4 linked regions of the Homo sapiens genome follow. The protein of the gene in region 3 purifies or fractionates together with the protein of the main gene of each other region. This does not show direct contact. Each region holds a gene or a part of one and is shown on either strand. Other genes may lie near its edges.

Region 1 (7,991 bases), on a different chromosome or scaffold from region 3:
CTCCAGCCTAAGCAATAGAGCAAGACTCCATCACAAAACAAAACAAAACAAAACAAAACAAAACAAAAACAATATTGAAAATAAAAAAGCACATCACCACAGATCCTGCAGACATGAAACAGTTTAAATGAGTTCACCATAAACAACTTGGTAGTAATAGCTCTGAATTTGTAGATGAAATGGACAAATTTCCAAAAAAATATGGCTTACCAATATTGACACAAAAAAATAAACTTTAAATACTCCTATACTAATACAGAACTTGAATAATTCATAGGTGAAAACTTTTCTGCAAACACTGCAGGCAGGGCATGGTTCACTCCTGTCATCCCAGAACTTTCAGAGTGGGAGGATGGCTTGAGTCCTGGAGTTCGTGACCAGCTTGAGCAACATAGACCTCCTCTCTACAAAAAAGGTTTAAAATCATGTAGTCACAGCTACTCCGGAGGCTGAAGTGTGAGGATCGATTGAATTAAGGGGTTCAAACTGCAGTGAGCTCTGATCCAGCCATTGCACTCCCTCCAGCCTGGCTGACAATCAGATAATGTCTTAAAAACAAAAACAAAGAAATAACCAACTCTAGGTCTATATAACTTGGCCTGTAAACTCCAGCAAACATTTAAAGAAATGATGCCAATCTCATATAAATTCTTGTGGAAAATAGAAAAGGGAAAATACTTCCCAACTTGTTTTTGAGGCCACTGTTATGCTAATATCAAATGCTGACAAGAACATTAAAGAAAAGGAAAATTAGCCAATCCCATTCACACATATGGATGCAAAACAAAATATCAGTAAGTAGATCCAACTTTTTTTTTCTTTTTTTTGACAGAGTCTTGCTCTATCACCCAGGTTGCACTGCAGTAGCATAATCTCAGTTCAGTGCAACCTCCACCTCCTGGGTTTAAGCAATTCTCCTGCCTCAGCCTCCCGAGTAGCTGGGACTACAGGCACTGGCCACCATGCCCAGCCTTTTTTTTTTTTTTTTTTTTTTTTTTTTTTTTGTATTTTTAGTAAAGACGGGGTCTCGCCATGTTGGCCAGGCTGGTCTCGAACTCCTGGCCTTAAGTGATCCGCCTGCCTCAGCCTCCCAAAATGCTGGGGATTACAGGTGAGAACCACTGTGCCTGGCCAAGATACAACTTTTTTTTTTCTATTTTTTCTTCTTCTTCTTTCTTTTTCTTTTCAGACGGAGTCTCACTCTGTCTCCCAGGCTGGAGCGCAATGACATGATCTTGGCTCACTGCAACCTCCGCCTCCCAGGTTCAAGAGATTCTTCTGCCCCAGCCTCCCGAGGAGCTGGGACCACAGGCGCGTGCCACCACTGCCAGCTAATTTTTGTATTTTTAATAGAGATGGGGTTTCACCATGTTGGCCAGGTTGTTCTCAAATCCTGACCTCAGGTGATCGCCTGCCTCAGCCTCCCAAAGTGCTGGGATTACAGGTGTGAGCCATCGTACCCAGCCTTTTTTTTTGTAGCAACAAGATCTCACTATGTTACCCAGGCTTGTTTTGACCTCCTGGGCTCAAGTGATCCACCTGCCTCAGCCTTCCAAAGTGCTGGGATTACAGGCATGAGCCACTGCAGCCGGCCCAGATCCAATATTTTATATTTATTTATTTTTTGAGACAGAGTCTCCATCTGTCGCACAGGCTGGAGTGCAGTGGCCCCATCTTGGCTCACTGCAACCTTTGCCTGTCGGGTTCAAGCAATTATCCTGCCTCAGACTCCTGAGTAGTTGAGATTACAGGCACGCGCCACCTCGTCCTGCTAATTTTGTGTTTTTAGTAGAGATGGGGTTTCACCATGTTTGCCAGGCTGGTCTCGAACTTCTGACCTCGTGATCCGCCCGCCTTGGCCTCCCAAAGTGCTGGGATTACAGGTGTGAGCCACCACACCCAGCCAGATCCAATATTTTAAAAGGATAATCAACATAAATGAATTTAGGTTTTTTGTTTGTTTGTTTGAGTTGGAGTCTTTCTCTGTCACCAGGCTGGAGTGCTATGGCGCGATCTTGGCTCACTGCAACCTCCGACTCCCTGGTTCAAGAGATTCTCCTGCCTCAGCCTCTCAAGTAGCTGGGATTACAGGCACGTGCCACCACGCCCAGATAATTTTTGTATTTTTAGTAGAGACAGGGTTTTCACTATGTTGGCCAGGATGGTCTCGAACTCCTGACCTTGTGATCCGCCTGCCTCGGCCTCCCAAAGTGCTAGTATTACAGGTCTGAGCCACCGCGCCTAGCCGAGTTTAGGTTTATTTGAGGAATGCAAGATAGTATTACATGATAATCTAACGATGTAATTTATTCATTAGCACAACAAAGGAAGGATAAAATAATGTAATTATCTTGGTTTGGAGAAAGCTGTAAAAAACATTCAAATCTATTCATGATCAAAACTCTTAGCAAATCAGGACAGAGAACTTCCTTAAACTGTCAGAGTATCTATAGAAACTTTTCAGCCCACATCATACTTAGAAAAGTGAAATAGTAGCCGGGCATATTGGCTCACGCCTGTAATCCCAATATTTTGGGAGGCCGAAGTGGGCAGATCGCTTGAGCTCAGGAGACCAGCCTGGGCAAGATGGTGAAACCCCTTCTGTACAAAAAATACAAAAATTAGCCGGGTGCAGTGGCCTATGCCTGTAATTGCAGCTACTTGGGAGGCTGAGGTGGGAGGATCGCTTCAGCCCAAGAGGTTGAAGCTTCAGTGAGCCGGGAGATTGCACCACTGCACTCCAGCCAGGGCAAAGAGAGTGAGACAGTCTCAAAATAAATAAACAAAACTAAATATAATACATGTGAAAATACAAAGAGCTCAGAAGAGATAAGAGCATCTAACCTTTATTTCTTGAAAAAATTTCAAACCTACAAGAATGCTCAGAGAGTACTGCAAAAGAACACCTATAATCTTCACCTAGATTCAATTAACATTTTGTCACTTTTTAAAATTTTGAGACAGGGTCTCCCTCTGTCTCTGGCTGCAGTGCAGTGCTCCAATCATGGTTCACCGCAGCCTCTAATTCCTGCGCTGAAGCGATCCTCTCACCCTAGCCTCTGGTTAGGACTACAGATGTGGGCTGCCTAGCTAATTTTTTGAAAAATTCTTTTATAGAGAGGATAGGGGGAGGGGGAGTCTCACTACATTGTCCAGTCTACCCTCACATTCTCGAATTTCTGGACTCAAGCGATCTTCCTGCCTCAGCCTCACCAAAACGTGGGAATACAGGCGTGAGCCTCTGCGCCCAACCAATATTTGCCTTATCTCTTTTTTTTTTTTTTTTTTTTTGAGATGGAGTCTGGCTCTGTTGCCCAAGGTGGAGTGCAGTGGCGCGATCTCGGCTCACCGCAAGCTCCGCCTCCCGGGTTCACGCCATTGTCCTGCCTCCGCCTCCCAAGTAGCTGGGACTACAGGTCGCGCCCGTCACCACGCCCGGCTAATTGTTAGTATTTTTAGTAGAGACGGGGTTTCACCGTGTTAGCCAGGATGGTCTCGATCTCCTGACCTCGTGATCCACCCGCCTCGGCCTCCCAAAGTGCTGGGATTACAGGCTTGAACCGCGGCGCCCGGCCTTTTTTATTTTTATTTTTATTTTTTTATTTTTTATTTTTTAGAGAGGAGTTTTGCTCTTGTTTCCCAGGCTGGAGTGCAGTGGCGTGATATCGGCTCACTGCAACTTCCACCTCCCAGGTTCAAATGATTCCCTGACTCAGCCTCCTGAGCAGCTGGGAGTACAAGGGCCCGCCACCACGCCCGGCTACATGTTTTGTATTTTTAGTAGAGACCGGGGTTTCATCATGTTAGCCAGGCTGGTCTCAACCTCCTGACCTCAGTTGATCCTCCTGCCTCGGCCTCCCAAAGTGTTGGGATTACAGGCGTAAACTACCGCACCCGGCCCTTGCCTTGTTTCTAAATACACACAAGAATGTTAATCATAGCACCTAATAGCCCAAAAATTGGAAACAATCCCAAAAGCTATTATCAGCAGTATATATATATATATATATATATATATTTTTTTTTTTTTTTTTTTTGAGACAGAGTCTCGCTCTGTCGCCCAGGATGGAGTGCATTGGCGTGATCTCGGCTCACTGCAAGCTCCGCCTCCCGGGTTCACGCCATTCGCCTGCCTCAGCCTCCCGAGTAGCTGGGACTACAGGCGCCCGCCACCACGCCCAGCTAATTTTTTTTTGTATTTTTAGTAGAGATGGGGTTTCACCGTGTTAGCCAGGATGGTCTCGATCTCTTGACCTCGTGATCTGCCCGCCTCAGCCTCCCAAAGTGCTGGGATTACAGGCGTGAACCACCGCGCCCAGCCTATTCTTTCTTTAGAATAGATCAGTGGTGGCGTATTCATACAATGGACTATTCCGCAGTGATGAAAATGAATTATAGATATTTGCAAAAATATGAATTACATAAACCATATTGAGCAAAAGACGCCAACAGATACATACTCTCTTTACATAAGGTGTTAGATACACAGAGATAGATAAATACGTGTAAATGATAGAGATATGATAGCTAAGCCAGTCCACAGGTTATTAGTCGTGGTCCACGTGACTTCTGAAGAGATGAAGGGGCATGGGAGGCTTTAGGGGAGCTTCCGCTTTTCTGGCAAGGTTTTCTTTTTGCCCGGGGAGCTATCAGCCAGCGGAGAGATCTGTGAGAAGGGATAAGACCTCAAGACAAGTAGGAAGCAGAGCCTTCCACGGCCCGCGCCCTGGCGGCCCCAAGTCAGCGGCGGAGACGGCGCCCACCCCGCTCCAACGTGGAGCAGGAGCAACGGCGTGGCCCGTGGAGCCCCGCCCCTCACAGGCAACCACAGAGAAGCCGGACTGGGCCACGTCTAGGAAGAGGTAGGAAGGGATCGGCGCATCGTTTCTCCAATGGGAAAGGATGTGTTTGCGGGCCAATAAGTAGCCGAGAATAACACCCGCCCACGCGCCTGCCAAGCCAATCGGCTAGGAGCAGCGAGCGGCGCGGCTGAGGCGCGGCGGCCCCGTGGAGCAGCGCAGTATGGCGGGCGGGGCCCGGGAGGTGCTCACACTGCAGTTGGGACATTTTGCCGGTTTCGTGGGCGCGCACTGGTGGAACCAGCAGGTGAGGTCAGCCGGCAGCTGCCCCCGAGGAGCCCTTCGGGATCTACAGTCCCGACGTTCAGCCGGCCTGCCTCGTCCTCTCTGCTTCCCCAGGATGCTGCGCTGGGCCGAGCGACCGATTCCAAGGAGCCCCCGGGAGAGCTGTGCCCCGACGTCCTGTATCGTACGGGCCGGACGCTGCACGGCCAGGAGACCTACACGCCGCGACTCATCCTCATGGATCTGAAGGGTGAGGTGGTGGCAGAGTTAGCCGATGCCCCTTATTTCCCTTCCGCGTGCCTAGTCCTTGCGCTGCCGTTATCTTCAAGACCCTCCCACCTTACCGAGCTCCAGGACCGGAGATGAGGAGCTGAGCACAACATGCCAACACTCGAGGGGCCCACGACAGTTGCTCAAGAGCCATTTCGGGAATAGGCTGCTAGGCCCTGGAGACAGTGAGGACTTGAACTGCAGCACTCCTGTCAGACCCCTGGATGTGGTTCCCCCCGCGTCCCACAGCTAATGACTAAGCTGGGAACCGAAAGATGGAATCTAGATTCTCCTAAGCCAAGGTTTTTCCCCCAACTAGTGTATATCCCAGAAAGCTTGGAAGAGCCAAGTGCTGGAGAGATGGTGACAGCAGGTTGTCAGGTGATCAGAGGAAGGTTAGCTAGAGGGGAAGGGTGCCCAGGCTTTGACCTAACATTGTCTCTGTTATTTCTGTACAGGTAGTTTGAGCTCCCTAAAAGAGGAAGGTGGACTCTACAGGGACAAACAGTTGGATGCTGCAATAGCATGGTGTGTAACTGATGTATGGATAAGGGTGGGGATCGTGTATGTACGCAGAACGCTGGATAACTCTGATCAGAGTGCAGTTTCTTTGATCAATCTCCAAACTCTTTCAGGCAGGGGAAGCTCACCACACACAAAGAGGAACTCTATCCCAAGAACCCTTATCTCCAAGACTTTCTGAGTGCAGAGGTGAGGGCCTCTGTCCTGAACTTTTTAACCCGGTGCCACAACCCGAGGGTCTCCATAGGGGCAGGTAAACGGGGATTTTAATCATTTTAAGTGTCTTAGAATGATATTTTGGGAAAAAGCACTCCTTTTCCTAAGGACTGCGACTCGGTGAACAGAAAGGAGGCTATGCGGTGTGGCCAGCCAACTCAAGGAGGACGAAGCAACCTTTGCCTCTAAACTGCCTGGAACTAAATGTCGATTTTTCTGACCCCTCCCAGGGAGTGCTGAGTAGTGATGGTGTCTGGAGGGTCAAATCCATTCCCAATGGCAAAGGTGAGACTTCTCCAGATACTGATGGATGGGGGCTTGGGTAGAGCAGAAACATGGAGAAAGGTACATTTCCTCTGCTTGTCTTCAGGTTCCTCACCACTCCCCACCGCTACAACTCCAAAACCACTTATCCCTACAGAGGCCAGCATCAGGGTCTGGTCAGACTTCCTCAGAGTCCATCTCCATCCCCGGAGCATCTGTATGATTCAGAAGTACAACCACGATGGGTATGGGGACCCCAGAGGCTTTGAGGCAAGAAACATGGGTCCCCACCAATGCAGGATGAGGCTCTTGAGGCCATCTTCCCTGCCCTTCCCCAGGACAAGAGGCTGAGGAGTTGAGGGAAGAGATGTAAGTCTTGGATCATGTTTACTTGTGGCAGGGAAGCAGGTCGGCTGGAGGCTTTTGGCCAAGGGGAAAGTGTCCTAAAGGAACCCAAGTACCAGGAAGAGCTGGAGGACAGGCTGCATTTCTACGTGGAGGAATGTGACTACTTGCAGGTAGTGGCGTGGCAATGTGCACTCCAGGGTGGAAGCTCTTCTCATCCTGCTAACTATCTTTTGTCACTCACCCCCGTCCAGGGCTTCCAGATCCTGTGTGACCTGCACGATGGCTTCTCTGGGGTAGGCGCGAAGGCGGCAGAGCTGCTACAAGATGAATATTCAGGGCGGGGAATAATAACCTGGGGCCTGCTACCTGGTCCCTACCATCGTGGGGTGAGTGGAACTTAGAGAAGTAAACAGTCACACAGTGGGGAGGGAGAAATCAGAATCCCAGTGGGAGAGCTGCTTAATACAAACTACTCTTTCTTCACCAGGAGGCCCAGAGAAACATCTATCGTCTATTAAACACAGCTTTTGGTCTCGTGCACCTGACTGCTCACAGCTCTCTTGTCTGCCCCTTGTCCTTGGGTGGGAGCCTGGGCCTGCGACCCGAGCCACCTGTCAGCTTCCCTTACCTGCATTATGATGTAAGTCTCGGTGCTCTTGTTCTGACTGCGGCAGGCTACAGGGCCTCCTCATGCTCCCAGTCAGCCGCTGTCTGTTACTGGCTCTGTTCTTGAGGCCCGAGCTTGAACTCAGCTGTGATGTGGCCTCTCAGATCACACTGTCCTATGCTTGTCCAGCCTGGGGTCAAACATACCCCTGATTCGTCCCCTGGGTCTCTCTGGTGTTAATATTCTGCCTCCACACATTCTTTTCCAGGCCTGAGGCCAAGTGCCCATCTTGGTGTCTTCTTACAGGCCACTCTGCCCTTCCACTGCAGTGCCATCCTGGCTACAGCCCTGGACACAGTCACTGTTCCTTATCGCCTGTGTTCCTCTCCAGTTTCCATGGTTCATCTGGCTGACATGCTGAGCTTCTGTGGGAAAAAGGTATGAAGCTTTGTAAGGGGTTGGGTCAGTGCTGAGAAAATGTCCTATAACGTGTTCTCTTCCATCTCTTTAGGTGGTGACAGCAGGAGCAATCATCCCTTTCCCCTTGGCTCCAGGCCAGTCCCTTCCTGATTCCCTGATGCAGTTTGGAGGAGCCACCCCATGGACCCCACTGTCTGCATGTGGGGAGCCTTCTGGAACACGTTGCTTTGCCCAGTCAGTGGTGCTGAGGGGTATAGACA
Region 2 (7,577 bases), on a different chromosome or scaffold from region 3:
TCCCAAATGTGGAGGGGGTTCAGAGGCAGGCAAAGCAGAGGCCAGACTGGAAGTGGCAGTCTCCATAAGGAAAGCAAGGGGGCAGGGGTCTTTAGATGATTATCTTTTAAGTTTCACCTTTATGCCAATAATCAAAATGAAGGTGCATCAAAATGAAGTAGCATCCAGTATCTAGAAAAGACATAACCTGAATATTTATTTTCTTAATGTTTCATATTTTTTCATACTTTTCCTCTAGTAAATCATATTATGTTCAGATACAAACAATTTGTAATTAGATACAAATTACTTGGTGAAGGATTCCAACCATCAGGACAAAACTGCCAGCAGCATCTGTTAATAAATGGCCTTCTGCTGCCATCCACTGTCCAAGTCGGTTTCTATAGGCCATTCTAGCAGCCTTACTTCAGCTTAATAATCTTATCACCTCTCCCCCAATAGGTGTGGCTTGCTACAAGTGGTTTCAACATTTTCCCACCCCACACCACACGCTGGCCTTGTTTCCCAGTACCACCACCTTTTGCCACCTACTACAGTAGCCTATTCGCTTCCCTTCTGATGCGCATTGTGCATTGTTTTGTGTGTGTGTGTGTGTGTGACAGGGTCTTACTCCAACCCAGGCTGGAATGCAGTGGCACGATCCTAGCTCACTACAGCATTGAACTCCTAGGTTCAAGCAATCCACCTGCCACAGCCTCCCAAGTAGCCAGGACTACAGGTATGTGCCACCACCCCAGGCTTTTAGTTTTTAAATTGTACAGAGAGGCTCTTATTATATTGTCCAGGCTGGTCAATATATTATATTATATATTATATTGTCTCTGGCCTCAAGTGTTCCTCCCCCCTTGACCTCCCAAAGTGCTGGGATTACAGGTGTGAGCCACCGTGCCCGGCCATGCCTAGTTTTTCTAGTTACACAGGCAGTGTGTCCCCACCTGCACCAACTACATGGGGCTCATCCTCAGCACAGCCGCTTAAAAAAAAAAATTATGGCTGGTTAACAGGTGTAACCCCTGACTACTGCAGAAAAGCCTCTCTAAAAGTGCTCTTCTCTACTGCCCAACCCCATTTCCACTCTATAAAAGGTGCTCAAATAGCTGAGTTGATTTTTAGTGCAGTGCAAACTCCTGAACCTGGTATTAATGATATTTATAGCCTTGTCCCTATTTATTTGCCCCATTTTCTCTCTCCCCTGTCTGCACAGGCCCTGTACTCTGGTTCAATCTTTTTGAACCACTACTGGAAACATTGTTCACATAAGCTGATTTTCATACGTTGCCTTGAATTATATTTTACATCTATTCAGCTTTTTCAGCTTGTCTTATCCCCCCAACTAGACTGTTGACACCTTAAATACAGAATGAGCCCATGTGATAATTTCCTCCTGCACCTGCTCAGCACCTAGTGCTACTTAATTGCCCACAGTAAGCAAGTAAGTAAATGATTTGATAGCTGCAGGGGACCCCAGCACTCTTACCTGTCATTCTCAGGAATCTCTTCCACATTGCCAAAGCCAGGTGTGGGCACTGGGCAGTCCATGTGTGAGGGCTGGGCAATGTGGGGCTCAAAGACGGGGCTGTCCCCGGGAGAGGCCGCGTGGGCTTTCTCGGCATCCAGCCGAGCCAGTTCGTAGTCACAGACGAAACACTCGAAGCCGTTGAGGTAGTTAGGCAGCAAAGGATCATTCACTCCCCACTCCCGATGCTTCAGACTATCCAGAAGAAATTGGTTGGTGATGCCCCCAGGTTGCTTGTATGCCAGGTATTTCATATACTCCTCATCATTCTTGTCCAGAAAGTCAATAAACTCTGCCAGCTTCTGAGGAGACTCAAAATCATCAATCAGGATGACGGAGTGATTGTTCGGCATCCAGTCCCTCACAGAGGGAGAACCGCGGTACACGGGCACAGCGCCCAGGTGCATGGGACGCCACAGTTTTTCTGTCATGTAGTCGTTACAGATGGCATTTTCCAGGGCCAAGTGGAACTTATAGCGGGACAAGAAAGCCAAGAGCTCTGGATCCTCGGTGGTGGCCGTGGCTGTGTCCTGTAGCCGCGCGGTAGGCAGCTCCCGATTCTGCAGGCATTTCCCGTAGGAGTCTACCTAGACCGGGTACAGTAAGGCTGTCATGAGGGTGCGGCCCTGGAGGCCTGGACACCTGGAGTCCTGGACACCTGGAGTCCTGGACACCTGGAGTCCTGGCCTCAACCCGCCCTCTCCTTTTCCTTCCCTCCGGCCCGCCCTCACTCACCGGGATGTGGCGCATGAGCTCGCGCACGTAGCGGTCCCGGTCCGCTGGCACGTCGCAGTGTGACTGCAGATAGAGCAGCGGCGCGTAGCCGCGGCGGCGCCACTCCGCGCGTTCCATGGGCGGAGGCACCGGGCGGCGCAGATAGGCGGTCCCGGGCAGCCACTGCAGCGACAGCGGGTAATCCGAGTGGCGACTGAAGGTGGAGGTAAGATTGAAGAGGCGGATGCCCGGGCCGTGGCTCAGCAAGAAGTTGTTGAGGGGCGACTCCTCGTGGAGGAGCGCCCAGCTCTGGTGCGCCAGGCGCGGCAGCGGGGCGGCCGACGCGCGGAAGTCTGTGCCGTAGAAGAGCAGCGCGCGCGTCCGCGAGTCCCTCAGCGCTCGGCGGTTCCGGGACGCCACGCACGCGCCGCGCGCACACTCGATGCGCTCCGAGTCTCCCGGGAAGTGGGGGAATAGCCCTGGGCTCCACCACAGCAGTACCGGCAAGTCCCCCGCCTCCTCCCTCCCTGGCCGCGGCGTCCCAGAGCTGCGCGTCACCCCCACTGCGCCCAGCGCCGAGGGCGGCCGGAAAACCGCGCCATCCCACGGTTCCGCCCACTCCGCCTCCCCGCCGGCCTCCCTCTCCGCTACGGACCCATGGCCGCTGGCTGCACAGACACTGAGCACCCCTAGAAGGACCAACACCACCCTAATGGGGCCGGCCGCCATGTCCACTCCGGCAGCCGGCGCCCCCTCGGCCAGCACCGACCCCGCCCAGCGGATAGTCGTGACCGGACGAGGCCCTACGCCACGGGGGCACGTGGCGCATGCGCAGCTCGCTCAGCCGACGGCCAGGACTAAAAGCAAAGTGAGCTTTCGGGAGTAAAGATGAGGCTAATGGTTACATCTTAATTTATTTTATTTCTTTACAAATTAAAGATGCATTGAAAAATAAACCAATGAAGAGAAATGAGAGGTCCAGAGCAGGGGCATCCCAGGTGGGGAGCAGGCAAGCCTGGCCACCATCAAGCCTAGCCCTTGTCCTGCCCCCAAGCCAGTTGGGGTTGGAAGATAACTGTCAGCCACTCAGTCAATACCAAAGCCCAAGCGGTGTCCCAGCAGGAGAGAACGGCGCTCCAGCTGCCTCTGCCTCTCTCCCCAACAACCCCGGGCCTGGAGAAGCAGTGTTTCTCGTGGGAGCTCAGAGTGGGATGTGAACTGGCTCTGTGAGGTATTGCAAGTTGATGACCAGGCTCCCTAGGCTCCCTACAGAACCATCCAGTGTTGGGGCCTCTCCAGCTGGAAAGGAAGCTGGTACCTCTACCAGATCTTAATATATTTTGCAACTCAGTTCTCCGGTCACCTCTGACAGTGTGCCTCTCTATCCACGGAGTGATCATCAATCATTGCAGGAGAGAGCGAGCGAGCAGTGAAAGCAGAGAAACTTGACTGCTAACCTCCAGGCCCAAGAAGGACTGACCACTTTTCTCTCCACCACCTATGGGCTATACCCCAGCTCTTGTGCACCTATATGTTTTATCCCTAATATAGGAAGTTGTGGATGACACTGAGCCCCCTGTAGTAACCTTAGGATCCCCACTCTTTCCTGCCTGCCCCTCTCCTCTTGGGAGACTGGTCCAAAGGGACACATAATATTGCCAGGGTCTGGGTGCCTCCAAACCCCCAATACCGAATCATATACAGTGAACTGAGAAGCTACATTCATTATGACAGGATTAGCAGGAAAAAGAGGGTAGAATGAGGGAACAGGGGCACCTTCCATCAGCAGGACATGACAGAGTGGCAGGATACTTGAGCCCAGAAAGAAGGTGTCTCCTTATATCTCCCCCTCCCCCCAGAGAGACTGAGGTCAGCTTACATAAGATATGTTACTGTCCCAATTTCTCTGACATCCTGGGGTGCTTTCTGGAAGCTAGCCTGGGCCCTATGCCATTTACCCACTTGCTTTAGCTCAGTAGCTGCCGAATCTCCTTGTGCATATGACAGAGAAAGTCCACATAAGATGCTCCCCCACTCAGACTCTTGTCTTCCACCAGGAAGTGCTTGAACAGCATCTCCATCTTGTCTTCCTGTTTCACCACGGTAAGCTACGGCCAGAATTCAGGGTTCATAAGGCAAGGCCAAAGGAAATTAAACATGCCCAGAAATCTCATTAGGCAGTCACTTACTCATTCCCCACCCAACCCCCACTTCTAGGTGAGGACTTGACAAGGTAAGAAATCCAGGGTTCAGATCAGTGTTACCTTCATGTACCGGGATCTCTGTGCCCGTAAGCTATCAATGAGGCCTCGAACCTTCTTGGACAGTGGATTATCCAGAACTGGCAGAACACTCTAGAACACAAAATTCATTTATCCTTATGGTAAGGCACTCTGAGTTCAGTCAAGGTGGGGCAGCATACATGTATGCATCATCTGAAACAGGCAAACCTGGGAAGAATGACAGCAACTGCCCTTGTCCCCAAGTGTTCCCTGATATTTGAGGGTACTAGCACACTAACTATATTGGCTCCCAATTGTTTCACAAAGTATACTTCCACACCCATATTCTCCTTGACTCCCTGCCCTCACCAAACCACTGGTGATCTGACTGAAGGAGGAGACGCTGAAAAGGCTCTGGACAACACCCTGTTGGACGCTTGCTCCCACCCAGAGGAAGAGGTTGAGCCCATTCTCCAGTAAATATATATCCCCATTGCTTAGACGCTCTTCAGAGGCTCGAACTGCTGGTGGTTCGGTAGTACTCTCAACGGGAGACTTTGTCTAGACAAAAGGAAGGGAGCAAAAGGTTACCAAGGACCATAAGACAAGTCTGCCCCCCCGCACCACACACAAAATTTTGAAAGCTAAGTCCTCAGACACCACCCCTTCTGGGGTCTCAGTAACTCTCTCAGTGTGAAAATTACATCAGCTAAAATACATAAAAACAAATTCCACTAGTGTCTGACTGATACTAGCCTATCCTTTCCTCCTCCTAAGAGGCCCTTTGCTCCGTGCAAGATCTCATACTCCAACCCTCAATCGCACCAAAGGTAAGAGCCGAGGGTAGAAGAAGACATTGGTCTCAGTCACATCCATGGAGGTAACTAGCTGTCGGACATAGGCACGGTCATCAGTAGTGACTTCAGCTCCAGGCTGCAGGACATCACTCTTCAACACACAGTTCAGGTAAACTGGGAGTAGCTTCATGCACTCAGGAAGGATCAACTGAGGGGATTATCAAAATAAAGTCAATGATCATGAGAAATCCCTCCCAAATGCAAACATTTGTCCCAACAACCCCACCTCCCACTAATATACTTGCCCCACCTGTCCTGCAGAGGAGGGGCTAGCACAGTTCTTTCTGTAACAGGCCAGGATCTGGGCACACTGGGTGATGAGCGTGTCACGAACAGCCTTCACAGGGCTATTCAGGACTCCCCGATATGCTGGATGGGAAAGCAAAGATAGTCACTGGTCAGCTGCCCATCATGTGTGCATTCCCACCATCACAACTACCCACTCACCATCCTGGACCTCTCAGCCCCAATCCCACCCTGCCCTGCTTCTACCCTCACCAAACTTGGCCATGTAGTTGATGAGCGTGTCAGTCTCACAGTTTCGATATAGATCAGCCAGCTGGGTGCAGCAGTTCAGGGCCAGATTATGGATGCGGAGCCGACGCTGCCCTGCACAGCTGGTGTAAAGCAGGGCACACTAGGGGAAAGGAGAAAGGGGGAACTCACACCCCTCCCTCACAAAGGCCCTTTGCTACACTATTAAACTGGAAGAGAGAAATGAGCCACTCCCGTGCCCTGTCTCTTCTTTTAGTGCTCTCTACCCATTCCTCACCCTCTTCTATACCAAGCGAATGAAACACTTCCTGCCCAGCCCCGCCTCCCGCCTGCCACCTGCAGGAGAGCTCCGCTCTCTTCATTGAGCCGATCGTCATGCTTGAACTCCACAGTCACTGTTTTGTCCCCATCTAGCCCAGCCAGCTCCACATCTGTCGTGTTGCTCATGTAGAAAGCTCCAAAGAAATCTACAGCACGGATACCTGAGGCCACATGGACAGGGTCAGGGCAAAAAGTATGACAAGTGCCACATGCCTCCCTTCCATATTTAGCCCCCCAACCTGCTCTTCAATCAGGACTGACCAGTGCTTGTCCGGACCCGCATCACAGCATCAAAGCCAACAACCTTCTGGACATCACGACGCAGGTCACTCAGGAACCGCTCCTGGTCGTTCTCCACCTGCAGGCCCCCAGGTCCAGAGTCATGTCACTGACTAGACATAGCTCATCGTGCAGACAATCTCCCTGTACCCCTTCCACTCTACAAGGCCACCTAATTATCATCATCATAACAGTGAGGATGATAATGATGATGACAATAATAGCTTTTAAACACTTAGACTGCATGCCAGGTACCACACAGAGTGCTTTACATATAATTATTTAATTCTGTTGACAAATCCTACTTAAGTATTTTAACACCATTTTGCAGATGAAGGAACAAAAGAGGAAGTACTTAAGAAATTTATCCTAGGTCATGTAGCTAGTAAGTGGTGGGGCCAGAATATCAATGCAGGACTGATTCCAAGGCCCATGTTCCTAACTGCCACATTCTCGGGCTCACTTCTTCAGACTATGCAGTCTTCTCTTCCAACACTATTTCTTCTTTTTTGGAGACGGAGTCTTACTCTGTCGCTCTGGCTGGAGTGCAGTGGCGCAATCTCGGCTCACCACAACCTCCACCTCCCGGGTTCAAGGGATTCTTAGCTTCCTGAGTAGCTGGGATTACAGGCGCCCGCCACCACACCCGACTAATTTTTGTATTTTTCGTAGAGATGGGGTTTTGCCATGTTGGCCAGGCTGGTCTTGAACTCCTGACCTCAGGTGATCTGCCTGCCTCAGCCTCCCAAAGTGCTAGGATTACAGGTGTGAGGCACCGTGCCTGGCCCCAACACTATTTCTATTAATGAGTCAGCCACTGCATATATAAGCAGATATTCCCAGCCCTGCTGCCACCTGCTGCCCCAAATCCCACACCATACCTGAAAGGAAGCATATTTGTAGACAGAGCCACCAGTGAGCTGGGGCACAACAGAGAGTGTGGCCACATCCACATACTGGTTAGGGAAGAGAAAGAGATCTACACAGCAGCCTTGGGCCACACACTCTTTGGCCAGGGTCTGATAGGCACCTGTCTGAGGCTGGAACAGAGTCTAGGGGGAAAGAAAATGGGGAGAAGAAAATGTTCAAATATCTCAGCTCCGCCCTATTTGAAAACTGTATATCTAGCATGGGATATTCAAATTCATGGAAGACTTCAGATCTACTTCCAAG
Region 3 (7,025 bases):
GGTTTCTGTGCAGTGCCAGGCCCCGTTGCCTTTGACATGAATGAAAAATGTGGCAGGAATCTGAATGACTCTTGCTCTTGAGTTTTTGGCAGTTGTTGGGATTACTGGCACTGAACAGTACCAGACCGAGGAAGCTCATAAGAACCAGGCTTCCAGTTAAACCCTCGAGCAGAAATAAAGCAGAGGGGTTTCAGCAAACAGCGGAACCCACTAGAGGTTGCATTTATTCATTCATCCAACAAATACCTATTAATTTGCCATGTGTCTGGCACTGTGTTATGATCTGGAACTAAAGGAGAACAGTTCAGTATAGTATAACAGTTCAGAACAGCATAATAGTTAAACTACCATGGTGAACTAAATAGGTAAAGTCCATACATTGAGAAAAGCAGAGTCAAAGTTATTCTATTCAAGATAGAAGCTAGTACTCAGTCGGGTATGGTGGCTCATGCCTGAAATCCCAGCACTTTAGGAGGCTGAGGTGGGCAGATCACCTGAGGTCAGGAGTTCAAGGCCAGGTTGGGTAACATGGTGAAACCCTGTATCTACTAAAATACAAAATTAGCCGGAAGTGGTGGTACGAGCCTATAATCTCACCTACTCGGGAGGCTGAGGCAGGAGAATTGCTTGAACCCAGGAGGCAGAGGTTGCAGTGAGCCGGGATCATGCCACTGCACTCCAGCCTGGGCAACAGAGCGAGACTCCATCTCAAAAAAAAAAAAAAAGATAGAAGCTAGTACTTGATTAGATCTAATAGTGATATTTAACAGTGAAAGATTGGTTTTTAAATGCCACAATGCTGGAGAGTAAGTGAAATAAGAATGGGAGAATTTTGATAATTACTCAATTACTGGAGCGGGGATGATATGGGCATGAGGGTTCTTTGTATCCTTCTCTCGATTTTTGTGCCTGGTTTGAAAATTCCCATAATAAATGTGGCAGGGGAGTGAGAGAGCTCCATGACTGAAGCTAGTTGTTTGCATTTTTCAACCTTTCTCTAAGTAAATATATTATATGAAAAGGCAGAATGAAGAGGAATTAGTTAATGATTTGCAATTTGCTTTTTTTTTTCTTTTTTTTTGGGATGGAGTCTTGCTCTATCGCCCAGGCTGGAGTGCAGTGGCTCGATCTCGGCTCACTGCAACCTCCGCCTTCCAGGTTCAAGCGATTCTCCTGCCTCAGCCTCCCAAGTAGCTGGGATTACAGGCGCGCCACCATGCCCGGCTAATTTTTGTATTTTTAGTAGAGACGGGGTTTCACCATGTTGGTCAGGCTGGTCTTGAACTCCTGACCTCATGATCCACCCATCTCAGCCTCCCAAAGTGCTGGGATTATAGGCGTGAGCCACCATGCCCAGCCAGCAATTTACTTTTATGATAACGATTTTGGTAATTCCTTCTGATTCTCCATGACCTGGGGAAAGTTGGCCTTGGACCCAAGCACCCTCACCATGTCAGCTTGATGAGCAGACACAGCAACTTTGTAGTCTGAAGTAGCCCTGCAATGTTAGACCAGGGGCTTTCAAACTTACATGCTTCAGGACCGCATGGAAGACAGGGGACAGTGTTTGTTAAAATACTGATGCCTGCGCCTCCTCTGAATTAGAAATATTTGAGGGTGGACCTGAACTCTGTATTTTAATAAGCACGATTTTGATGCAGGCAATCTATGGATCAAGCATTGGATGACAGTGAAAGATACCTCGATTGCTACGTGAGCAATCAAGGTCTTTTTTTTTTTTTTTTTTTTTTTTTTTTTTTTGAGATGGAGTGTCACTCTGTTGCCCAGGCTGGAGTGCAATGGCACAATCTCGGCTCACTGCAACCTCCGCCTCCCAGGTTCAAGCGATTCTCCCTGCCTTAGCCTCCTGAGTAGTTGGGACTACAGGTGCCCACCACCACGCCCAGCGAATTTTTGTATTTTTAGTAGAGACGGGGTTTCCCCATGTTGGCCAGGCTGGTTTCGAACTCCTGACCTCAGGCAATCCACCTGCTTCGGCCTCCTAAAGTGCTGGGATTACAGGCGTGAGCCACTGCACCTGGCCCTGGGTCTTTCACCAAAGCATATTTGCTCTAATTCTTGCCACAACCTTAATTTGATTTCATCTTTTCTCCTCCCACTTGCCAGCATGAATTCTTATCTATGGGATTTTATAAAGATTAAATGAAATAAAATACACTGAAAGAGCGCAGGGCCAGATGAGAAATTGTGTGTGTATAGAATATGTGATATAGTATTACTAAATGCTTCAACCGCTCTACTCTTTCATCACTTCTTTTACAACCAAGGATTTCAGTATTTTAAATGTGACCACCAGAGGTCTGTATACCTGTACCTGTCTTCCCTGAGAGAGAGCTGCACCATCACTGCGTATCCCTGTGACTCCTACCAGGATTATAGGAATGGCAAGTGTGTCAGCTGCGGCACGTCACAAAAAGAGTCCTGTCCCCTTCTGGGTAAGTCTAACCAGCAGTTTCCTCTCTGATTCACAAAGAACTAATTTTTGGTATGAATCCCAGAACCACTTTATCATGTAAAAACTGGCCCCATAATTGTATTAAAAACTTGTTTTTCTGCTGGGCACAGTGGCTCATGCCTGTAATCCCAGCACTTTGGGAGGTTGAAGCAGCTGGATCACTTGAGGTCAAGAGTTTGAGACCAGCCTGGGCAAAATGGTGAATCCCTGTCTCTACAAAAATACAAAAAGTAGCCGGGTGTGGTGGTGCGTGCCTGTAGTCCCAGCTACTCGAGAGGAGGCTTAGGTGGGAGGATCACTTGAGCCCAGGAGGTTGAGGCTGCAGTCAACTGAGATCATGCCACTGCACTCCAGCCTGGGTCACAGAGCAAGACCCTGTCTCCAAAAATAAATAAATAAAAGGTTAAAATTTAAAAAAAAATTTCTTAAAAAGAAAAAAATTTTAAAAATAGACTTTTTTTTTCTAGTCAGCTTTTTCTAGCCAATTTGTTCTTTGAACTACTCTAGTCTCCTACTAATAAACAGTGTTAGAAAGCAATGTAGACTGGGCATGGTAGCTCACGCCTGTAATCCCAGCACTTTGGGAGGCTGAGGTGGGCGAATCACAAGGTCAGGAGTTTGAGACCAGCCTGGCCAACATGGTGATATCTCATCTCTACTAAAAATACAAAAAAATTAGCTGGGCATGGTGGCGGGCGCCTGAAATCCCAGCTACTTGGGAGGCTGAGGCAGGAGAATCACTTGAACCTGGGAGACGGAGGATACAGTGAGCTGAGACCGCGCCATTGCACTCCAGCCTGGGCAACAAGAGTGAAACTCCGTCTCAAAAAGCAAACAAACAAACAAAAGAAAGAAAAAAGAAAAGAAAAGCAACTGTAGAGTATTCCATCCAGAAGGCAGTACAGCCTCCCTGGACCCTCTATTCTAGCATGGAAAAGAAGGTTACAGAAGAGTTTCCAAGCTTACCCAGGGTACAGTCACTCTACGTAGCCTGCTCCTGTGGGGACAGGAATACCCTTTCTGTGCTTACAACCTCTCTGCTGGGAGAGGGTCCACAATGAGCCCAGAGACTCTCCTGACAAGTGAACTTTTTCACAGACTCATGTCTATGTAAATGCCCTCACTCCACATTCTGGCTCTTGTGTGCACGTACAGCAGGTGGAGTGAGGTAATAGATATTGTGGAGGCTGCTTGGATATTCGCTAGGGATTAGTACAGATATTCTAGGTGGTTAGGACTTTGAAACTGGATGGTCATGAGGATTTTCTATTTTTTTTCCAAAAGGAAAAATCCAAGTTAACAACAGGGCATGGTATAGACAAGGGGTTCTCAACCTTGATTGTGCTTTAGAATCACCTAAGGAGTTTTAACACAATACTGATGCCTGGGTCCCACCCTGGATCAATTAAGGCAGAATGTGAAGGCCATTCTCTAGGGCTAGGGACAGAGGAGAGAAAGAGGGCCCTCTGGACAGCAAAAACAAAGGAGGACACTCACCTGCTTAGTGACACAGTCAGTCATGTGGCAAGCCCAGGTCTATGCAATTTAGGGGCCCCATTGTAGTTCTTCAAGAAAGCATATTGGTTTTCAAGAGTGATGCTATTTTAGGTATGAACTTGAATCTGTTTTAATCTAGAAAATGAATGTATTACTGAAAAATGTCAGTGTTATTTTTAGTCCACACCAGTGTGTGCCACACCCCACACCTCTCCACCCTGCTACTGAGAACCAGTAAAGGGGGAAAACAACTGGAGGGTCCTGTTGCCCTTCAGCTCTTAGGGACAGGGTTGGCCAGCAAGATGGGTCACCCTGCAGGCCCTCACCATGGGGGATGGAGGTGGGATGGAGTTTCTCTCAGAAGTGGTGGATACAGTCAAACTCAATGTTCTTGCTACCTCAGTTGCTTTTATGTTTGTATAATACATATTAATCTTACAATTTTTTAAACTTGTTTCATAGGCTATTATGCTGATAATTGGAAAGACCATCTAAGGGGGAAAGATCCTCCAATGACGAAGGCATTCTTTGACACAGCTGAGGAGAGCCCATTCTGCAGTGAGTGGTGAATGTGGTTGTTGGCTTTTGCCTAACTCTCATTTTGGGGATGGCTGAGTCTCAGCTTCCTGGCTACTTCTTGGCAAATAAGAGCCATGATGAAGCATCAACTTTGGAGCTGGAAGGGCCTCGGTTGACTCCTGAGTCTACCACATAATAGCTGTGGGACCTTGGTGAAGTCATTTGACTTCTCTGAGTCTCAATGTCCTGACTGGTCAAATGGGGGTAATAATGCCTGTATTCTGGGATATTAGGTTTAATCTGATGCCATTTAAAAATATTAATTTAATAAAATCTCAACAAATCAGAGTTGTTAGTTTCACTGGATGACCATTCTAATCACTAAGATCTTCCAGAAAATTGCTTGATTCCCCAAAAGACATAAAATTAAGACTAGGAAAAATCAGGTGTCAGCCATATCTACAGGTCAGTTCCAGCTCTAAAGCAAACATGATGACCCAAAGGCCTCGAGAGGTTGAGTATTCCAGATGGGAATTAAAGGGGGCAGCCAATGATTAGACGCCTTGGGAAGCAACTAGAATTTCCTTGGGCAGATGTGTTTTTCCTACAGTCTTGTACCCATTTTCACTTTCCTTGGGAACAACTATTTTATTTCATTTTATTTATTTTTTTTGAGACAGGGTCTCACTCTGTCACCCAAGTTGAAGTTCAGTGGCGCAATCTCAGCTCACTGCAATCTCTGCCTCCTGGGTTCACGCGATCCTCCTGCCTCAGGATTCCGAGTACCTGAGACTACAGGTGTGCATCACCATGCCTGGCTAATTTTTGTATTTTTAGTAGAGACGGGGTTTTGCCATGTTGGCCAGGCTGGTCTCAAACTCCTGACCTCAGGTGATCTGCCTGCCTTGGCCTCTCAAAGCGCTGGGATTACAGGCATCAGCCACCATGCCCAGGCTATGTTAATTTTTTTTTGAGACAGGGTCTTGTTCTGTCACCCAGGCTGGAGTGCAGTGGCACAATAATGGGGCACTGCAGCCTCAACCTCCTGGACTCAAGCAATCCTCCTGCCTCAGCCTCCCAAGTAGCTGGGACTTCGGGCATGCGCCACCATGCCCAGCTAACTGTTTTTTTTGTTTCTTTTAGAGACAGAATCTCACTATGTTGCATAGGCTGGTCTTGAACTCTTGGGCTCAAGCAATCCTCCTGCCTTAGTGCTGGGATTACAGGTGTGAACTTCCATGCCAGGTGTGAGCAACTCTTTTAAAAGAGCCTGGAGGCTAAGCATGGTGGCTCACGCCTGCATTCCCAGCATTTTGGGAGGCCAAGGCGGGCGGATCACTTGAGGCCAGGAGTTTGAGACCAGCCTGGCCAACATGGTGAAACCCCATCTCTACTAAAAATACAAAAACCCCAAAAACAAAATATAAAAATTAGCTGGGCGTGGTGGTGCTTGCCTGTAATCCCAGCTACCTAGAAGGCTGAGGCTGGAGAATTGCTTGAACCCAGGAGACAGAGGTTGCCGTGAACCGAGATTACGCCACTGCACTCCAGCCTGGGCAACACAGAGAGATTCTTTTAAAAAAAAAAAAAGCCTGCAGATCACTGGGTTTCCCTCTTTCTTTGGAGCCATGTGTGGCAGCCCAGGATTTGGCACCTACCTGGTCTGTATGGGGCAAGCCCCTGAGCAAGTTGGGCCATAAAATGGCAAATCCAGGACTGACCTTATTCCTTCGTGGGACTGTCATCTCCCTGATTAGTTCCTGTTGTAGCGTGTTTTAATTTTATCTTTTTTTTTTTTAAAAAAACCCATAAGACATTATTCAGGTAACATTTGTATAGATGTACCCACATATTCACCACTTTTTTTTTCTCTGAGTCTGCTGGTTAGGGAATGCCACTTTATTTTTATTATCACCCTTTCTTGCATTTTGTAAATACAGGAAAGTGTGCTGAATAATAATGGGGAGAGTCCAGAGTATGGCAGGAACTTCAAGAAAGGAGACCTGACTTAGTCTGGGGGTCAGGAAAAGCCTTCTGGAGGAATGACATTAAGTTGAAACCTAAAAGGTGGATTCACAGAGCTGGCAAAGTAAGCGTGCCCAGGTGGGTGAAGGCCCAGGAGCCTTCACAGTGCAGGGAGTGCAGGTGGTGGAGCATGATTGGGAGAAGGATGAGGAAGGCTGAGTAGGCTGGTGGACTTGGCCCAAACTGTGGAAAACCGTCTCAGCCCTGGAGGGTCTCCGAATGGCCCCTTAGTTGGTTGAGTCTAAAATGGGCAGGAATTGATGTGAACCACACTCAGCCATAAGCCCTAAGACTTCACAATACCTGGAAACACTGGTTCAACGATGATGCCTGACCATGGTGACTGGAAACCAATGAACTCTGCTATCACTCATGCCATCTTTACCAAAGAGAAGAGAAGGGAATATTAGAAACTTCTGCCCTGGATCTTTGCAGAGAAACCAGAGAGAAAGAGAAGAAGAGACTCAGTGATTAGGGAGGTTCAGTTTTTAGGAACCAGCCCTTCAGG
Region 4 (7,025 bases), on a different chromosome or scaffold from region 3:
TAAATTGAGCCTGGATCTCTGAACTAGAGCTCAGAGTAGGTGTTTGGATCCATTTTCTAAGCCAGATCCCAGATAAAGGTCTTAGATCAGTAACTCAGGTATAATCTCTGGACCCAGTCCCTGAGTCAGTGCCCCAGACTAGAGCCTTGGTCCAGAAACAGATGTACTGAGTTTGTGAGACCTCTGTAAGAGCATTCCCACTGGATCCTAGGAGCCACGCTGGGTCTCTGGCAGGACCACTCAGTGAACTCCTTGGGGGGCTGCAGCCCAGGCAGGGCTGGAGCCTGTGACGTCCCCTCCTCAAAGTTTGCAGACACAGACAACATTCTGACCAACAATCAGACTCTGCGGCTTCTCATGGGGCAGGGGCTTCCAGTGGTGGCCCCAATGCTGGACTCCCAGACCTACTACTCCAACTTCTGGTGTGGGATCACCCCCCAGGTGAGGCCGGGATGGGGGCCTTGGGTGGACTGAGGTCCTGGAAGGAGGGACGTGGAGAGCAGAGAGCCTGAGGCCTTGGGGTCTGTGGGCAGGGGCAGGGGAGCCCTCTCACAGCCCAAAGCATCCCTTTTCCCCAGGGCTACTACCGCCGCACAGCCGAGTACTTCCCCACCAAGAACCGCCAGCGCCGGGGCTGCTTCCGTGTCCCCATGGTCCACTCCACCTTCCTTGCATCCCTGCGGGCTGAAGGGGCAGACCAGCTTGCTTTCTACCCGCCACATCCCAACTACACTTGGCCTTTCGACGACATCATCGTCTTCGCCTATGCCTGCCAGGCTGCTGGTGAGGACCAGCCCTCCTTTAGCATTCCTTGGAGGCCTCTGCACATTTGCACATGCTATTCCAGCTGCTTACCATGCCCTTCCCTACTCTGCATTTCATCCTGTTAACCCATGAGTTACAACTTTGGGTCATGAGTTTTCTTTTCTCTCTCTTTTTTTTTTTTTTTGGTGTGATCTCGGCTCACTGCAAACTCTGCCTCCCGGGTTCAAATGATTTCCTGCCTCAGCTTCCCGAGTAGCTGGGATTACAGGCACCCGCCACCACACCCAGCTAATTTTTGTATTTTTAGTAGAGACGGGGTTTTGCCATGTTGGTCAGGCTGGTCTCAAAACTCCTGAGCTCAGGTGATCCACCCGCCTCGGCCTCCCAAAGTACTGGCATTACAGGTGTGAGCCACCCGCCCAGCCAGTGGTTACTTTTAAGATGAAAGGTTTTTTGTTGTTGTTGTTGTTGTTGTTTTTGGGACAGAGTCTCACTCTGTCGCCCAGGCTGGAGTGCAGTGGCCGATCTTGGCTCACTGCAAGCTCCGCCTCCCGGGTTCAAGCCATTCTCCTGCCTCAGCCTCCCGAGTAGCTGGGACTACAGGCGCCCACCACCACGCCCGGCTAATTTTTGTATTTGTAGTAGAGATGGGGTTTCACCGTGTTAACCAGGATGGTCTCGATCTCCTGACCTCGTGATCTGCCCGCCTCGGCCTCCCAAAGTGCTGGGATTACAGGCGTGAGCCACCGCGCCCAGCCAAGATGAAAGTTACTAGAAAGAGTTTGGGTATGGCCAGGCAAGGTGACTCAGACCCTAATCTCAAAGTCTTGGGAAGCTGAGGCTGGAGGGGAAATCACTTGAGCTCAGGAGTTCGAGACCAGCCTGGACAACATAGCAAGACCTCATCTCTTTTCTGCCCTTTTTTTTTTTTTGAGATGGAGTTTTGCTCTTGTTGCCCAGGCTGGAGTGCAATGGCGTGATCTTGGCTCACTGCAACCTCTGCCTTCCGGGTTCAAGCAGTTCTCCTGCCTCAGCCTCCCGAGTAGCTGGGATTACAGGCATGCACTGCCACGCCTGGGTAATTTTGTGTTTTTAGTAGAGACGGGGTTTCTCCGTGTTGGTCAGCCTCGTCTCGAACTCCTGACCTCAGGTGATCTGCCCGCCTCAGCCTCCCAAAGTGCTGAGATTACAGGCATGGGCCACTGAGCCCAGCCCAGCCTTTTTTTTTTTTTTTTTTTTTTGAGACGGAGTCTTGCTCTGTGGCTCCCAGGCTAGAGTGCAGTGGCACAATCTCAGCTCACTACAGTGTTGACCTCCCCCACCTCAGCCTCCCACGTAGCTGGGACCACAGGTGCACACCACCATGCCCAGCTAATTTTTGTATTTTTTGTAGAGATGGGGTTTTGCCGTGTTGCCCAGGCTGGTCTTGAACTCCTGGGCTCAAGTGATCTGCCCCCGCAGCCTCCCAAAGTGCTACAATTACAGGCGTGAGCCACCGCCCCCGGCTGCGAGATCCCATCTCTACAAAAAAATTTAAAAATTAACTTGGCGTGTTGGCCCACGCCTGTAGTCCCAGCTTCCTGGGAGGCTGAGGCAGGAGGATCGCTTGAGCCCAGGAGGTAGAGACTGCAGTAAACTGTGATCATGCCACTGTACTCCACCTTGGGCAACACAAGATGAGACCCTGTCTGAAAAAAAACAGAGAGTAAGAAAGTGTTTGGGTTTGGATGGAATAAATCCAGTCCTGGCCAGGTGCGGTGGCTCACGCCTGTAATCTAAGCACTTTGGGAGGCCGAGGCAGGTGGATCACGAGGTCAAGAGATTGAGACCATCTTAAGACGGTGAAACCCCGTCTCTACTAAAAATACGAAAAATTAGCCAGGCATGGTGGCGGGTGCCTATAGTCCCAGCTACTCGGGAGGCTGAGGCAGGAGAATGGTGTGAACGCAGGAGGCAGAGCTTGCAGTGAGCCGAGATCGCGCCACTGCACTCCAGCCTGGGCGACAGAGCGAGACTCTGTCTTAAAAAAAAAAAAAAATCCAGTCCTGAGGATGAGAGGGAGGGGTGGAGACACTGATGTTGGAGTGAAGCTCTTGAGAAGGCTGCAGAGAATATGTAATTCCGACCCTGAAGACTATCTGGTGCATGGAGAAGAACTTTGCAGGTGCTCAGGGTAAATTAGAGGTGACGATTTAATCAAGTAATCAGTGGCAGCCGGTAAGGAGGATGTTGTAATTCTTTGTTTTGTGCTGGAGAAGTCTGCAGTGTGCAGACATGCAAGAAGAAATCTTACCAAGTGCAAAAAGTGAGTGAAGGTGAAACAATTGGAGGGGAAAACACAAGAGGAAACAAAAGCATTCTGTTATTTTTAATTTGCTAGCCCTACTTCAAGCGACAGCCGTTGTTAATTGGTCAATGGTTTGAAGGAATTCAGTCTCTAACAGCCAGATACTACATCCCGGCTCTGGGCCAGGCTCTGTGCTCAATGCTGGGAATAGGGTTAGCTTTTATTTGTTTTTTGTTTGTTTTTTTTTAAGACAGAGCTTTGTTCTGTCGCCTAGGCTGGAGTGCAGTGGCGCGATTTTGGCTCACTGCAACCTCTGCCTCCCGGGTTCAAGTGATTCTCCTGCCTCAGCCTCCTAAGTAGATGGGATTACGGGCGGCCACCACCACAGCCGGTTAATTTTTGTATTTTTAGTAGAGATGGGGTTTCACCATGTTGGCCAGGCTGGTCTTGAACTCCTGACCTCAAATGATCTGCCTGCCTGGGCTTCCCAAAGTGCTGGGATTACAGGCGTGAGCTACTGTGCCCCGCCTAGGTTAGCTTTTTAATTGGCACTGTGTGCCTGCCCCTGAGGATAATTATAATAAAGGTAACAAATATTGGCCGGGTGCAGTGGCTCACGCCTGTAATCCCAGCACTTTGGATGGCCTAGGGTGGGTGGATCACTTCAGGCCAGGAGTTCGAGACCATCCTGGCCAACATGGCGAAACTCCGTCTCTACTAAAAATACAAAAATTAGCTGGATGTGGTGGTGCACACCTGTATTCCCAGCTACTCAGGAGGCTGAGGCAGGAGAATTGCTCAAACCTGGGAGACAGAGGTTGTAATGAGCCAAGATCGCACCATTGCACTCCAGCCTCGGTGACAGAGCAGGACTCCATCTCAAAAAAAAAAAAAAGGTAACAAATATTGAAGCCGGGGGAAGGCCACTCTGGCTGCCAGGTGAAAGACATCGTGGAGAGGAGCCCCAGAGGGTGTGAGGTGAAGTGGAGGGGTGTGGGGAAAAGGCGATGGCCCTTGGATCCAGGTGGGGTGGTGGGGATCAGGAGAGGTGGGGGGATTTAGGAGACAGAGCAGTGGGGCTCACTGGCACCCTGTGGCTGTGATGGGTAGGAGTTTGTCTGCTCCTGCCTCACCTTGATGCCCTGAGGGCAGGGACTCAGTCTTGCTCACTGCCGTAACCCTGGCTCCCAGCGGGTGCCCTGGACAGGTATATTGAATGAATGAACCATTTCAGTAGAAAGACCCCTTAGATATTGTGTGAGCCAAGCCCTTTCTCCCTCTGGTCCCACAGGTGGGGAAACTGAGTCCCAGAGAAGACTGACATGTTGGGTCACTGGCAGTGCTGGGCCTAGGACCTTTCAGCTGGGTTCTGAGAGCCCCACCCTCCACTGCAGCTCTCACTCAGCCTGTCTCTGCAGGGGTCTCCGTCCACGTGTGCAATGAGCACCGTTATGGGTACATGAATGTGCCGGTGAAATCCCACCAGGGGCTGGAAGACGAGAGGGTCAACTTCATCCACCTGATCTTAGAAGCACTAGGTGAGGGCTGGGGAACTGTTCCACCCACCTGCTGCCGGGGCTCCCTGCCTCCCCACGGTGCCCCTTTCCCTAGGCCCTGGACGGAGCGGGCATTGGCCTTGGGGTTCCAGCTTTGTCCCTAACTCGTTCCATGACTCTGAGAAAGTCCCTTTCCCTGTTGGGCCTTAGTCTAGCATCCCTACAATGGGGGCAGGTGGATCCTGTGATCTCTGAGGTCCCGTCCTGTGGGGTGTTCTGCCAAAGGGGGCAGGAATGAGGCTGGGGGCTAGGACTTCAGGGTGACTGCTAACAGGAGTCAGTAGGGACTCGTGCTTGGGGTGTGCTTCCCTTTGCAGTGGACGGCCCCCGCATGCAGGCCTCAGCTCATGTGACTCGGCCCTCTAAGAGGCCCAGCAAGATAGGGTTTGACGAGGTAAGTCCCCCAGCCTGTGGGCTCGCTGTTAGGAGGTGGATGGGCCCTCCTCTTCCGCTCCCTTGCACTTACCGCCCACCCCCCTGCCTCCTCCAGGTCTTTGTCATCAGCCTGGCTCGCAGGCCTGACCGTCGGGAACGCATGCTCGCCTCGCTCTGGGAGATGGAGATCTCTGGGAGGGTGGTGGACGCTGTGGATGGCTGGTGAGCCTGCCTGGTGGGGGGGGCCCTGTGCGCTTGGGGAAGCAGTGTGGTCCATCTCCTAGCCCGCTAGGACTGGGAAAAGCAGACAGGTTGAATGAGTTTCCTGTCCCATGTAGTATCCAAATAGGGTCTGAGTAATATCCTCTCAGGGAGTTCCGGAGCAGACACACGTGGGAGAAGATGCCCTCCTGCTGCTCACCAGAGGAGGAGAGCACAGTGGCTGAGGCTCCAGGGCCTGGGTTCCAGCTCTACCAGTTACTGAATGTGTGACCTCCAGCCAGCTACCCCCATCTCTCAGCCCGTTTGTATAAACAGCAGATAACTGTGCCCTTCTCTTAGGGTTTTGTGAGTTTAGTGAAGTTAGCCAGGGCCGGGCACATAGTTTCCAAAGGCTTAGGTGTCTCCCTTATTATTACTCTCCATCCTGGACTTGAGCTACTGATGCGTGGGGATTAGGAAAGGCCAGCCATGTTCCCCCGAGGAACCCAGAGGCTAGGCTTCTCCAGCCACCAGGGGTCCTATGGCCCCATATGTCGGCTGCCATTTGCTTCAAGTACTCAGCTCTTTTTATTTTTTTTTTAGAGACAGCGTCTCCGTCTGTTGCCCTCCGTCTGTTGCCCAGGCTGGAGTGCGGTGCCACAAACATGGCTCACTGCTGCCTTAAACTCCTGGGCTCAAGTAATCCTCCCACCTCAGCCTTCTGAGTAACTGGGACTATAGGTGTGCACTATCACATCCAGCTAATTAAAAAGAATTTTTTTTTTTTTTTGAGGCAGAGTCTCGCTCTGTCGCCCAGGCCTGGAGTGCAGTGGCGCAATCTTGGCTCACTGCAACATCCGCCTCCCAGGTTTTAAGTGATTCTCCTCCCTCACCTCCCAAGTAGCTGTGATTACAGGCTTGCATCACCACACCCGGATTAAAAAAAATGTTTTGTTTTGTTTTTTTTTCATAGAGATAGGGTCTCACTCTGTTGCCTAGGCTGGTCTTGAACTCCTGGCCTCAAGTGACCGTCCTGCCTCAGCCTCCTGAATAACGGACTACAGGCATGCACCACCATGTCCACCTAATGAAAAAAAATTTTTGACTGGGCACGGTGGCTCATGCCTGTAATCCCAGCACTCTGGGAGGTTATGGATGGATCACCTGAGGTCAGGAGTTCGAGACCAGCCTGGCCAACCAACATGGTGAAACCCCCTCTCTACTAAAAGTACAAAAATTAGCCAGGTGTGGTAGTGGGTGCCTGTAATCTCAGCTACTTGGGAGGCTGAGTCAGGAGAACTGCTGGAACCCAGGAGGCAGAGGTTGCAGTGAGCCGAGATTGTGCCATTGCACTCCAGCCTGGGCCGACAACAGTGAGACTCTGTCTCAAAAAAAATTTTTTTTTTGAGAGATGGGGTTTTTCTCTGTTGCCAAGGCTGGTCTTGAACTCCTGGCCTCAAGCAATCCTCCCACCTTGGCCTCCCAAAGCACTGGGATTACAGGTGTGAGACACCACATCCCCCGAGGTCTCTTGACCATAGGCTATCCATCCTTTGCTTGGGCCTCTGCCCAAGAAGTATCTATCATGTTCCCACATTCTTCCTAGAGTGCCTCCCCCTCAGGCAGCCCCCTACCATCCCACCCTTTCCTCAAGGGTCACCCCTGTCTTATCATATTAGGACATGTCCTAATAGTTATCCTCTCAGAACTCCCGAGGTGGCTGGGCGTGGTGGCTCATGCCTGTAATCCCAGCACTTTGGGAGGCTGAGGTGGGTGGATCACCTGAGGTCAGGAGTTCGAGACCAGCCTGGCCAACATGGTGAAACCCCATCTCTACTAAA

The links.
Region 1: the proteins of LIPH (region 3) and MSTO1 purify together in Homo sapiens (affinity purification with mass spectrometry; 3 studies listed by BioGRID and IntAct, with this or other methods). This does not show direct contact.
Region 2: the proteins of LIPH (region 3) and POFUT4 purify together in Homo sapiens (affinity purification with mass spectrometry; 3 studies listed by BioGRID and IntAct, with this or other methods). This does not show direct contact.
Region 4: the proteins of LIPH (region 3) and CERCAM purify together in Homo sapiens (affinity purification with mass spectrometry; 3 studies listed by BioGRID and IntAct, with this or other methods). This does not show direct contact.

The regions. Positions count from the first base shown.
Region 1 is NC_000001.11:155,605,227-155,613,217, forward strand, and holds the start of MSTO1 (protein misato homolog 1), read left to right. Parts: upstream 1-4,991; 5' UTR 4,992-5,022; coding exon 5,023-5,106; exon of another isoform or gene 5,107-5,198; coding exon 5,199-5,334; exon of another isoform or gene 5,335-5,812; coding exon 5,813-5,882; intron 5,883-5,989; coding exon 5,990-6,065; exon of another isoform or gene 6,066-6,129; intron 6,130-6,184; exon of another isoform or gene 6,185-6,200; coding exon of another isoform or gene 6,201-6,322; coding exon 6,323-6,377; intron 6,378-6,462; coding exon 6,463-6,601; coding exon of another isoform or gene 6,602-6,626; intron 6,627-6,694; exon of another isoform or gene 6,695-6,739; coding exon of another isoform or gene 6,740-6,756; coding exon 6,757-6,874; intron 6,875-6,955; coding exon 6,956-7,090; intron 7,091-7,191; coding exon 7,192-7,344; exon of another isoform or gene 7,345-7,408; intron 7,409-7,579; exon of another isoform or gene 7,580-7,617; coding exon 7,618-7,749; intron 7,750-7,822; coding exon 7,823-7,991. UniProt on the Homo sapiens protein: Involved in the regulation of mitochondrial distribution and morphology. Required for mitochondrial fusion and mitochondrial network formation.
Region 2 is NC_000010.11:73,767,716-73,775,292, reverse strand, and holds the start of POFUT4 (GDP-fucose protein O-fucosyltransferase 4 isoform 1 precursor), read right to left. Parts: upstream 3,018-7,577; 5' UTR 2,960-3,017; coding exon 2,252-2,959; coding exon of another isoform or gene 2,191-2,251; intron 2,159-2,190; coding exon of another isoform or gene 2,127-2,158; exon of another isoform or gene 2,104-2,126; coding exon 1,478-2,103; exon of another isoform or gene 1,473-1,477; intron 1-1,472. Other genes in the region: protein transport protein Sec24C, read right to left, coding at 4,198-4,338, 4,495-4,584, 4,822-5,013, 5,278-5,457, 5,560-5,678, 5,808-5,946, 6,141-6,286, 6,387-6,483 and 1 more. UniProt on the Homo sapiens protein: Protein O-fucosyltransferase that specifically catalyzes O-fucosylation of serine or threonine residues in EMI domains of target proteins, such as MMRN1, MMRN2 and EMID1. Attaches fucose through an O-glycosidic linkage.
Region 3 is NC_000003.12:185,514,573-185,521,597, reverse strand, and holds part of LIPH (lipase member H isoform 1 precursor), read left to right. Parts: intron 1-2,288; coding exon 2,289-2,456; intron 2,457-4,435; coding exon 4,436-4,531; intron 4,532-7,025.
Region 4 is NC_000009.12:128,423,832-128,430,856, forward strand, and holds part of CERCAM (inactive glycosyltransferase 25 family member 3 isoform a precursor), read left to right. Parts: intron 1-306; coding exon 307-441; intron 442-578; coding exon 579-783; intron 784-4,470; coding exon 4,471-4,590; intron 4,591-4,925; coding exon 4,926-5,002; intron 5,003-5,098; coding exon 5,099-5,205; intron 5,206-7,025. UniProt on the Homo sapiens protein: Probable cell adhesion protein involved in leukocyte transmigration across the blood-brain barrier. Does not express any beta-galactosyltransferase activity in vitro.